Linked DNA regions of Homo sapiens: all the other regions are linked to region 2. The links come from fine-mapping of genetic effects on gene expression. A gene starts in region 2. Each other region holds a variant in brackets. All regions are shown on one strand. Distances are from middle to middle.

Region 1 (4,329 bases), 20 kb after region 2:
TCACAGAGTATTTAAGAAACTGGCTGATCAAGCTGTTGGCTTTCTTGATGGCTGATTGACCAGTCCATCCCTGACTTCAAGGGCTTAAGTGCCCAGGCACTAGTTGCTAATGCTGCAGTTAGAGCTAAAGCACTGGCCTGGTCTCTGTCACTGTGACTCATCCTCTTCTAAGAATGGCTCTATTTTCTTCTACAATACTTAATTCAATGTTAAGCATTGTTGGCTTGCCGAATTGGGCAAAAACTGAATGTCTAAGATGAGCCAGTTGGTATTTCAGTTTAGAACTAGGAAAGCGCAGAGTTTGGGGAAACTTTCCAGAGGAGAGCCACAGCTCAAACCCAAGGTAATGCTAGAGATCCCTGAACATTTGTGCACTCTGATCTCTGGCTACCTTACAGAGTGAGGTAACTTACTTTCTTCTTCCTTATTCCTTAGGGCAAGAATATCACGGCATGGGCATGAGTAGCTTGAAACTGCTGAAGTATGTCCTGTTTTTCTTCAACTTGCTCTTTTGGGTAAGTGTATCTCTTCTGAGCACGGTTTAGCTCACCTTTACCCAGCTAAGCTCTCCTCATTCCTCTACTGAAGAGGCTGGTGTGGGGTAAAATGCATGCGTGTTTGGGTCATGTCCAGCACAACCATCCTAGAAACAAAAGAGTAATAATTTTTCCCCTCTTCCTGCCACAGAATAAACCTGCAAAATTGAAAGGTACCAGTGCAGTTATTAATGGAGGTGCTGTTTCTCTCTGAGGGCTTTAGTTTACTACTACTCGTAGCTAACATATATAGGTGAGAAACCTGAGACTGTGCTCTGGATATTGAGTGCCTCTGTTTTTCTTGTCTTTTTTTCTAGATTCCTTGAAACAATAAGTGATTGAAAGGAAAGTCACCCTTTCCAGGGAGGTTTCACTGTATAAAATTCAGCAATTGAATTTCAGATATAGGATGGGTTGGTACTTGTGTATATGAGAAGATTATTATAAGTTTGGCTTCTCTAGTTTTCTGCCTAGCAAGATGAGCTTCCTCAAGCAGGGCATCTTCTCTACATGGTCATGGTTTCTACAGAGAAAGCCATGTGTGAGCGACTGAAAAGATAAGGAAAAAGAAGTTAGACCTATATATGGTGAAGATACTGTGTGGCTCACAGAAGTGATCTTTCCTTGGTATCTGGAGATGGGTAGGAAGAGTTGTGAGTAGGTCTCCACATGAGAAAGCTGAGATTGCCTCTCCAATGTAAGCATGGAAAAGTTTGGTAAAGAAATTGTTCATGAGACTCTTGATTGAGCCAGTTAAAAATAAAGTGATTCTGATCTCAAGGAAGTGAGAATATGAGGAGATACCCAAGAACCACATTTTGCTTCAGGATGTTGTGGGATTCTTCCTTTCAGATCTGTGGCTGCTGCATTTTGGGCTTTGGGATCTACCTGCTGATCCACAACAACTTCGGAGTGCTCTTCCATAACCTCCCCTCCCTCACGCTGGGCAATGTGTTTGTCATCGTGGGCTCTATTATCATGGTAGTTGCCTTCCTGGGCTGCATGGGCTCTATCAAGGAAAACAAGTGTCTGCTTATGTCGGTGAGTCCTTACAGCAGATGTGGTGCCCCAAGTCGGGGAGATGGTGCCTAAATCCCAGGCAAGATGTTTCTTGGTAGATCACTTATAGGCACAGAAAGATCATAGGAAAATGAGATTGGTACCTCAGATCAGCCAAGTCTGCCCAGACCAATAGTATATTATGTATGACTAGGGTCCCACGGACAGGTGAAAGAGGGCATTGCTATCCCCCTTGTAGCCATTTTTATATTGCTAATAATGACTTTTGTCATTATTGTAATTCCCCTTTATAGCATTTTATTTTTTCTTTATGTCTGGATGAAATCAGGTGTCATCCATCTTCCAAAATCCTCCTCATGCTAGCTATTATTATGTACTTTCAGATTCTGACTGAGAGTCGCTAACTAATGGAAAATAATTTCTAGGCTCTTTCCTCCCCAAATGCCAAAGGATGCTTCCTTAACTCATGTCTGCACAAGATACTCCGTAGAGAGATCCAACTTAGGTGAGGGCTCTGGCTGCAGCCATTGAGGTCTAATGTGAGAGATGCTACAGCCTTTTGCATGTTCCCTATCAGGTACTATCCTGAGGAGTACCTTAAGGCTTAGGTTTTGCCTGTAAGCACAGTGCCTGTAGAGCACTGAGCTCTACATTTCTGTAGTGTTCCCAGAACAGAGCTTGGTGTAACAGTGCCACTCTACCAATAGGCGTGGGTTTCTAATCACATTGGTTCTTCCTTAAATCATTTGGTTAATCTTTTTTCCATTATGGTTCAACATTTTGGTGGTGGTTTTTTGTTTTGTTTTTTTCTTCTTGTTGTTGTTTTGGAGATGGAGTTTCACTCTTGTTGCCCAGGCTGGAGTGCAATGGCATGATCTCAGCTCACCACAGCCTCCGCCTCCCGGGTTCAAGCCATTCTCCTGCCTCAGCCTCCCGAGTAGCTGGGATTACAGTCATGCGCCACCATGTCCGGCTAATTCTGAATTTTTAGTAGAGACAGGGTTTCTCCATATTGGTCAAGCTGGTCTCTAACTCCCGACTTTAGGTGATCCACCTGCCTCGGCCTCCCAAAGTGTTGGGATTATAGGCGTAAGCCACTGCGCCCAGTCTGTATGGGTCAACTCTTAAACTGGAGCCAAGAGAAAGAATTTTTTAAAAAGTCCCTCTTCTCAGATAGTTGTCAGACTAATGGCAAAGGATGGAAGATAGCAGACATGGGGTAAGG[C/T]AAATGTTTTAAGCAGTCAAAATTAATGTTGGGGTAAAAAAGGTGAAGGAGAAGGAATAAGTGAAAATGTTTTCTGTTGTGTGTTATTAGCATAAAAGGAGTAAGCATCGAAAGCTGGAAACAAATATGAGTTAGAACCATGGCTAGGACCCTTCTTTCTACCATTGTACAGGGCTCCTCTCAGCCACTACCAGCAGTCCTCCACCCAGAGGTATCCCTGATCTTGTAGAAAGGACCAGGCCCCAAATGATCTAGTTTACCAACCTTTTGCTTAACTGCTTCAATAGGCAGATGTCAAAATTGCTTAACTTATTCAACAGGTGGTGGTGTGTATGTATTATGCATGTAGTGCTCTGATAGGCACAGCAGGTAGGAGAGAGCAAAGAAGACAGTTGATCTGCCCTCTAGAGTCTAATTGTAGAAAAAGAACACATATTTTCACAAAACAAAAGAAGGCTTACAACGGCCTGAGGAGGCAGAACAGGAACACCCTGTACTCGTGCAAATGCCCCTGGATGCTCCCAGAGCTGAGTGGGAGTGGGACGAGAATGGGGATCAGTGCTGTGAGAATGTATCTGCTTTGTCCCAGTTCTTCATCCTGCTGCTGATTATCCTCCTTGCTGAGGTGACCTTGGCCATCCTGCTCTTTGTATATGAACAGAAGGTAAGTTATAAAGACAACAACTTATTGTCTTAATACTGAAAGTGGGGAGTATGCAGTGGAGAAGTTGGTACAAAGTTACAGAATAAGTTCTATAATAGAGATAGAAATGAAGTGGAAGGATAGAGGAAACAGAGAGTAATTGTAATTGGGGGGAAAATTTGTATGAAAGAGATTGTATCTGAGTGGTATCTTGAGGGGTGCCTGGAAAGAGCAGTAAAACAAGTGTCTCTTCCTCTACTTGCTTTCCTCTGTGTGTTTGGCAGGAGAGAATGTCTGCCTCAGTGCCTAAGGATAGCCCTTGCTTTAATTGCTCCTTTTCCTCCCTTGTAAAGCCAGAGCTCTAGAAGGAAGCAAGCCTACTAAATACTTCTTCCTTCAATGCCACCTCATGCTCAGCCTGTATGCCCATAGATAAACACCCTCCCCTCACCCTTAGTTCTGAGGAGACCATTTGGAAGGGAAGCGCAAGTGGAACCACTAACCTATACTGGAAATTCCTTATTCCTTGAACTCACCTGCTTTTTACCATGTCTCCTCTGCTGGAATGTGCCTGCCCAGCTGAATGAGTATGTGGCTAAGGGTCTGACCGACAGCATCCACCGTTACCACTCAGACAATAGCACCAAGGCAGCGTGGGACTCCATCCAGTCATTTGTGAGTACAGGTGGAATCCTCTTCAGATCAGCCCAGACTTCATTTTCAAGCCTAAATCCTTGGGGGCTAGTTCCTTTTTCTGGAAGTTTCAGAATCTAAGGTCCACATCCCTGAATCCCAGAATAATGCCTTGGCTATCACAAACATGGGAGCCCAGTAATTAGTCTGATTAGTACAAAGTTCTCTACATTCTCTCTTTCATCCTTTTCTAACATGAATAGGTTTATTTT
Region 2 (4,000 bases):
GCTCGTGAGACAGAACTAGATTGATTTGTTTAAGCAACTAAAAGGAATTCCATATCCAGTGTTACCCAGTGTGAGGAGATCTTGGGGGTGGGGCCGGGGAAGAAATAGCCGGCTGAGAGTTTTAAGCTGGGGAGTCATGTGATTAAATTTGCATTTTAGAAGGCTCTCCTCCCTTCTTCCTGAGGACAGACTGAAGAAACATCCAAGGTGGTCTTGAAGGACACTGGGATCCTGTAACACAGGTAAAAGATAAAGACTAATGTAATTTCTATGGGGTTGGAGAGAGGTGGTCTGGTTTGAGAAATATTTAGGCAAAAGCATAACTGACAGGACTTGGTGGCTGATAATAGGTGGTGGTGTGGGAGAGAGAGTAGCTTAAGAGGACACCTGGTTTCTCATGAACGTGGCTGAAAGGCCAGTCAGGCCTTTCCTGGATGGTGGACATGGTGGGAGGAGCAGGCTTGAGTGTGGGGATGCCAAGTTAATCAAACTGAAGTTGGATATTGGATTTGAGGTGCCTGGGAGAGAGTGGAGCTCAAAGGAGAGATCATGGCATCTATATAGATTTGTGAATCTTTGGAACAGACAGATAGTAATTAGAGCCATCAGAATGGGTGAGATAATTAGGAAAATATGAGTTCAGCCAGAAGCCTCTCCTCAGCCCCACCACTTCAGGGACCTGTAAGCATGGCAGCAGCTCTGAGTGAGGGTCAGTGATTCCAGCCGAGGTGCAGAGACTTTTTAATAGCATTCCCTAAAGTGTAGTTACACTGAAAAATTGTTCCCCAAGAGAAACTACACACACACACACACACACACACACACACACACCACACAGTTCCATGCTCAGATAAGTTTGGAGAAATCTATATATTATTTCCCCTGCTTAGAGAATATTAAGGACTGACAAGTTCTGCAGTAAAGACCTTTTTACCTTCATTTAATTCAGTTTTCCCCACAAGACAGCCCTGGCTGGAGATTACTCTGGATCTGAATGTCTCAGGGTGAAGGAAGCGGGAGACAGCTAGCTTTCCCAGAGGCATGCCCGCAAGTCAGCACCGCAGAGTGCATCTATCTGTTCATTTATAAGATGAAAACATTGGGGCCCAGTGATTGCTTCCAAGTTTCATAGTTAGCTAGTGATACATTTGGGTTGTCACATACTCCTTTGACCCAATCTAAGAAAATTCCAGTGATGCAGCATAGTGAAACCAGAAACACATTTTTCAAAATATATTGATCACAGTGTTTCTCAAAAGGCCTTCTCTGTGACCTTGAATTTTAATCCTACCTCTGACATGTCTTAGTTGTATGAGCTTGGGCAAATTTTCTAACCTCTTTGAGCGCCTGTTTTCTTGTATATAAATAAGGATGTAACAGTAACCAGTAGGATTATTATTAGGTGTTACCATTAATAAACTGAGGCTGACAGATTGAGACTTGCTCAAGATCTCACAGCTAAAAGAGATAAAGCTGGAACTGAAACTCAGATCTTTGGCTCCAAATGTGGTGTTTCCTGTACTAACCAAATCATTTCTACCAGTGCCCCTGGGATTATGCCTTGGGGACTCACCTTAAGACAGTCTTGCTCTCGAGACAGAGAAGTCTGCAAATGGTGTCCAATTCAAGTCTAGAGACTGGCTGAAGCCAGACAGAGGGAGTATGAGGAGGGGGCAGAGAATCTTCAGAAAGACATTCCAAAGTCTCGGGCCTAGAAAATGTTTAGAAATATTGGTTCCTGTGTTCCCCTCCAGTCTGTCTACCTGAATGGGAAACTGGTGGTGGGGCCAGGCATACTTCTTTTTGAACAAATACACAGTTAATTCTGAGATGCCACCTTGATTGAGAAGCACTGTCCTTTTCTAAGCAAAAATCATTGCCAAATTACCCTAGAATCCACCACTGCTCACAGATCTGTGCCTGAACCAACTTGGTTTTGAAGTTTTCTTTTGTTTCACAAAACTAGTTTAGGGTGGGCTGTGAGAGGAAGCTTCTAAAAAGCCACTGGGAAAGTACTAAATCTCTGAGACTAAAGAGGGCGGACTCAGCCTCACTTCCTCCTTCTTCTCATCTGGGCTTCCTGTCGTCACAGCATGATCATATTTTTTCACCCTTCACTTCTCCTTTTACACAAATAGCCCCGGATATCTGTGTTACCAGCCTTGTCTCGGCCACCTCAAGGATAATCACTAAATTCTGCCGAAAGGACTGAGGAACGGTGCCTGGAAAAGGTAAGGTTGATGACGTTTTAACTTGGCTTGCTGTCTAATGTGGGGTAGGGCGTATTCTTAGGGGTCTCCATATACCTCTCTAGTAACCATAAAATCTCCGGCAACTTCTCTTTCACAAATATTTAGTGCACAAAGTAAAACAGATTAGCAAGATCCTAGTAACATCCCCAAAGGCAATCAGGCCAGAAATACTTTTACTTAATCAGGTTCCCATTATCTAAATCTCTGAGTCGAGGCATTCACATGCCTTAATTGCTTCAGAGCTTGAATTACTCTGTGTAGTAATTCCTGATGCCTGGAGCTTTCTATGCGAGATGACATTGGGGAGATTTCCTATGTGCTCTGGTCTTCAGAAAATTGGTCTTGTGATTTTAAAGTGAGGAAAGAACCCACAGCCAGAGCTGTCTTTAGAAAGACAGCTAGAAGACACAGTTCTTTTTCATTTGAGAAAATTTCAAAAGTAAATTTAGTGACTCCCACTGTGGTTCTTCAAAGCCACTAAATAGAAAGGTGGCTAAAAATCAAAACACCAGGATGTGCTCAGTAACTGTATTTTAAAAGGTGAAAGCTAGACATCTCTAAAGGATGCATAGATTGTTGGCTTTTAAGGAGCAGGAAGCACATTGGGATCCTCAGCATTTCCCCAAATTATCCTTGGTGTACAAAACATGACCACTGATAAATGTCACATGAAATGCACGTATAAAATGCAATCCCCAAAACTTGATACTGCAGTAATTTCCAATCATGTGCTGTAACTAATGACTGAGGTTGCATGGACTCAGCAAAGTGTTAGCAGAGCTTCGGTCCTGACTCTCTGTGACCACCATCGGAAACTCTATGTAAGAGCTTTCTTCTTCCAAGACCTGTGAGAATTTCACTTGATTATGCCCTGGAGCAGAAAGGAGAAAGTTCTCTTTGATTACACCCACCCATCTAAGTATGAGGATTGGGAACAGGGCAGAGGGCTCTAGATTTCCAAGAGGGGTGGGGACGGGGAGAGGGCTCTGGATTCCCAAAACACCTCAGAGTTTATTGAGCCTTGTATTAAAAAATAAAAAGCAGTCTTTTAAATAAATTCACTTAATAATCAAGTGGTAGGTGCCTCCTGAGGCCAGGCACTGTGCTTTGGGAATTGTGGGGGAGGGAGATGAAAAGGTAGAAGGAGAATATTTGTCTAGCAAACAGTCCTACTCTTAAGGAACTCCCATGGGAGATAAGAGATATCATACTATGCGTGTGCTTTGGAAGAAAGCTGAGAAAAAGCAAACTCCCAGCTGCTGGACAAACAAAGAGGTTTTGCTTTCTCAATCTTGAGGAGAATCTGTACTATTTTGAAATTGTGGTTGAATGGGAGCAAAGACTGAACTGAAACATTATTTCCTGTGATGTTTCCTGTGTGGGCCAGTTAAGAACACTTAATTTTTAAATGAAAGGATTGGGTACCTTTATATTCATGAGGAATGATTCCAAGTTCATGCCTTCACAGCTATGGTTACCACCACCTAAGTGACCTCACCTTTGTTCACTGACAAGAGGCACAAACTGGAAAGGACAAAGTCTGTTGGTCCTTGGTTTTTTGTGCCCTCTGATTGACCTCTGACTGCACAGAGGCCCTCGGACTCTGGTTCTCCTTTCCCACTCCTACCCCATGGCCAGATATGGCACTTGGTGCTGGAGATACAGGATAACAGAAAAGATTATCATCTGAAAGGAGTTGTAGAGTTTATTATGGATGACAGTCACAGCAATATACAAATACAGTGCAA
Region 3 (4,000 bases), 26 kb after region 2:
ACTTTTGTGTGAAAGTAGGAGAGGGTTGTGTCTAGATATTTCTTAAGCAAGAAGTAGGTCTCCTTATGGTTAAAGTGAAATGTATAGGGTTGAGATAGAAAAGTTTCTCCCTCTCCCTCTTTCTCTGCTCTTCTTCCTTGGAGATGGCAGAATCCAGCCCCTTAGGGAAATGAATCATAGGTGAAGGAGTAAGGAGTTGAGGGAGACAGAGTTAGTGGAACTACTGAAACAACCTGTCCAATTAATTTGGACCTCCAGAATAGGCTCTGAGAAGAAGCCACAACTATCTTCCAACTAGACCGAATCCCTGAGGTCTTGTCTCCTCATGTTATCTGCTCCTGAAGGGGTTTGGAAATCTCCAGGGTTTTTCAGGTTTGTGGAGAAAGACTAGGACAACCACTGACCAGCAACTGCCCTGGCACTTGGTAGGGCTATGATGGATTTACTGAATGTTGAAGCAGAAAGTGAAATGCAAACCAATTTTAGTATTGCATGCCCTATGTTAATCTCTGGTCAGCACTGAGTGTTCAAAGACAGTAGGACGTCGGTTGCTGACCTGCCTCTTAGAAGCTAGTTTAACTCAGCGGGTAAGGATCTAGGACTTCTACATTAGTTACCACTGTAATGATAACACCACCAGAAAAGTCTGTAGTTTAATATTTCCCACCTTATGCCTGTTTCTTCATTCACGCAAAGAAAATAAAAATATAATACCTAAGCCTCTTTGTATTACATAAAGCAAAATGCAAAGCACTGTATCTTCCAAATACTTCCTCTTGATATGGTGGAATTATAGAGTAGTATCATTTGTAACTGAAATGTCTTCTAGGGTTGCTATGCGAAAGCAAGACTGTGGTTTCATTCCAATTTCCTGTATATCGGAATCATCACCATCTGTGTATGTGTGATTGAGGTAAGAGCTTAACCACAGGGTTATTGTGAGGATTACATGAGTTAAGTCAGGTAAGATTTCAGAATAATACCAGGTACACAGTATTTACACAATAAATGTTAGCTATTTTTACTAATATATGAATTCCCCCAGCCAAGTAGCAAATAATGTAATTAACAATTTGCTTTAAGGTATATAGAAAATGTGCTATAAGAACATCTCTTGGCCGGGCGTGGTGGCTCACGCCTGTAATCCCAGCACTTTGGGAGGCTGAGGCAGGCAGATCACGAGGTCAGGAGATCAAGACCATCCTGGCTAACATGGTGAAACCCCGTCTCTACTAAAAATACAAAAAATTAACCAGACGTAGTGGCAGGTGCCTGTAGTCCCAGCTACTTGGGAGGCTAAGGTAGGAGAATGGCGTGAACCTGGGAGGCGGAGCTTGTAGTGAGTCAAGATCGTGCCACTGCACTCCTGCCTGGGCGACAGAGCGAGACTCTGTCTCCAGAAAAAAAAAAAAAAAAAGAACATCTCTCTGGTCAATTCATTCCTCAGAGATATGAGTGATTCACATGATTCACAGTCAAACAAAAAAGCCACCAAGCAGAATCCCACTGTGATCCCTCCTCAGCTGGTCTGAAAAATACGAATTGATAAAGTATTTCATTTGAAAACCTGATCTTGCATGTTAAGGGGCTGATGACGAAAATTGTAATCAATTTCCTCTTTGTTTCTGTGCTTAGTTTGACAAGTGATGGGTGAATTGAGGGTAGTTTTTTGTCCTTTTTAATAAAAAAGGACAAAAATAATGTGATATTTCTAACATTTTTCTACCCAAAGTGTTGGGTATATCATAGATTAGTTAAAACTCAATCAGGAAGCTCAGAGAAAATGATTTTTCTCTGTTTGGAAACAAAGGAGGCACAGAGCATGGATAGAGATAACTCATTGCACAGTGTTCAGTGAGCAGAATATGACCATCCTAGCAGCAAGGCTTCTGTGACTTCCTCAGAAGATAAAACATGCTCCAGTACTTTACAGCCTGTTATCTTGTCATCATTGACCCCGTTTCTCTCCTCACTGCTATTCTTTAACCAAAGGAAAGAGCTCCTGAGAGAGACTTGAAAGTAATGGTTGGAAGGGTGGTTTCAGTGTAATGGATACATTCTTTTTCTCAGAGGCCAATCCCAGGCATTGTGAAAGAAATGGCTTTTCTTATGAAGACTTCAAATTTTCCCAACTCTTTTCACAGGTGTTGGGGATGTCCTTTGCACTGACCCTGAACTGCCAGATTGACAAAACCAGCCAGACCATAGGGCTATGATCTGCAGTAGT[C/T]CTGTGGTGAAGAGACTTGTTTCATCTCCGGAAATGCAAAACCATTTATAGCATGAAGCCCTACATGATCACTGCAGGATGATCCTCCTCCCATCCTTTCCCTTTTTAGGTCCCTGTCTTATACAACCAGAGAAGTGGGTGTTGGCCAGGCACATCCCATCTCAGGCAGCAAGACAATCTTTCACTCACTGACGGCAGCAGCCATGTCTCTCAAAGTGGTGAAACTAATATCTGAGCATCTTTTAGACAAGAGAGGCAAAGACAAACTGGATTTAATGGCCCAACATCAAAGGGTGAACCCAGGATATGAATTTTTGCATCTTCCCATTGTCGAATTAGTCTCCAGCCTCTAAATAATGCCCAGTCTTCTCCCCAAAGTCAAGCAAGAGACTAGTTGAAGGGAGTTCTGGGGCCAGGCTCACTGGACCATTGTCACAACCCTCTGTTTCTCTTTGACTAAGTGCCCTGGCTACAGGAATTACACAGTTCTCTTTCTCCAAAGGGCAAGATCTCATTTCAATTTCTTTATTAGAGGGCCTTATTGATGTGTTCTAAGTCTTTCCAGAAAAAAACTATCCAGTGATTTATATCCTGATTTCAACCAGTCACTTAGCTGATAATCACAGTAAGAAGACTTCTGGTATTATCTCTCTATCAGATAAGATTTTGTTAATGTACTATTTTACTCTTCAATAAATAAAAGTTTATTATCTCAATCACAACATTGCTATATATCAAACACTCCTTCCATGACCCAGCCTGATTACCCTGATTAATGCACCAAACCAGGTGTATTAATTGTCTCCTGCTGCATAAAATATTACTCCAAAATTTAGTGGCTGAGGACAACAAACATTTATTATCTCATGGTTTTTGTGGGTCAGGAATCTAGGAGCAGCTTAGCTGGGTGATTCTGGTTCACAGTCTCTCATGTAACTGCAATCAACATGTCAGCCTGGGCTGCAGTAACCTTAAGGCTCAACTGAAAGAGGATCTACTTTCAGGCTCTCTCACATCGCTGTTGGCAAGCCTCAGATCTTTGCCACTTGTGCCTTTCCACGGGGCTTCCTTATGACATGGAAGCTGGCTTCCCCCCATTTAAAGACATCCAAGAAAGGGCATGAGATTCGGCACCCAAAACAGAAGCCACAGTTTGTTGTTTTTGTTGTTGTTGTTTTGAGATGGAGACTTGCTTTGTCACATAGGCTGGAGTGCAGTGGCACAATCTCGGCTCACTGCAACCTCTGCCTCCCAAGTTCAAGCGATTCTCCTGCTTCAGCCTCCTGACTGGGACCACAGGTGTGTGCCACCATGCCTGACTAATTTTTTTGTGTGTTTTTAGTAGAGATGGGGTTTCACCATGTTGGCCAGGCTGGTCTTGAACTCCTGACCTCTGGTGATCCACCTGCTTCAGCCTCCCAAAGTGCTGGGATTACAGGCATGAGCCACGCCACAGTTTTTATTTATAACCCCAGATGTGCCACCACATCAGTTCTGCCATACACTGTTTTAAAAAAGTGAGTTGAATTGTTCAGCTCACACTCAAAAAAAAAAAAAAACAAAAAAAAAAGGAGATTATAGACAAGGGTATAAATCTGTAGCACATAGAGATCACTGGAGGTCATCTAAGAGGTTGCCAACCCCACCATATTTGTTTGGTCAAAAAAAGAAGCTAAATTGAATTGTCTATAAGCTAAATTTAATTATCTACGTATAACCACACTTTGTAAGGCAGAAAATAAGACCATATCTAATAGGGAGCCAAATGTAGAG

What was found. PIP is the estimated chance that this variant, and not a neighbour inherited with it, causes the effect. A credible set is the group of variants that fine-mapping cannot tell apart.
Region 1: its variant is the best candidate, but not a certain one, in a credible set for the expression of CD53 in whole blood (INTERVAL, PIP 0.59).
Region 3: its variant is the best candidate, but not a certain one, in a credible set for the expression of CD53 in whole blood (TOPMed, PIP 0.79).

Annotation. Positions count from the first base shown.
Region 1 is chr1:110,890,957-110,895,285 of GRCh38, forward strand. It overlaps CD53 (CD53 molecule), which reads left to right. Exons shown (of 8, transcript NM_000560.4): 2 at 436-515; 3 at 1,389-1,577; 4 at 3,371-3,445; 5 at 4,004-4,099. The coding sequence starts at 453. It also overlaps a transcript of LRIF1 not described here. Among named protein-coding and RNA genes, the nearest start is that of CD53, 20 kb to the left of the region's middle. The variant C/T (reference allele first, on the strand shown) is at 2,782.
Region 2 is chr1:110,871,018-110,875,017 of GRCh38, forward strand. CD53 (CD53 molecule) reads left to right here and starts at 2,131. Exons shown (of 8, transcript NM_000560.4): 1 at 2,131-2,231. It also overlaps a transcript of LRIF1 not described here. RefSeq lists enhancers at 1,332-1,381, 1,982-2,091, 3,604-3,653.
Region 3 is chr1:110,896,980-110,900,979 of GRCh38, forward strand. It overlaps CD53 (CD53 molecule), which reads left to right. Exons shown (of 8, transcript NM_000560.4): 7 at 830-913; 8 at 2,145-2,943. The coding sequence ends at 2,216. It also overlaps a transcript of LRIF1 not described here. Among named protein-coding and RNA genes, the nearest start is that of CD53, 26 kb to the left of the region's middle. The variant C/T (reference allele first, on the strand shown) is at 2,228.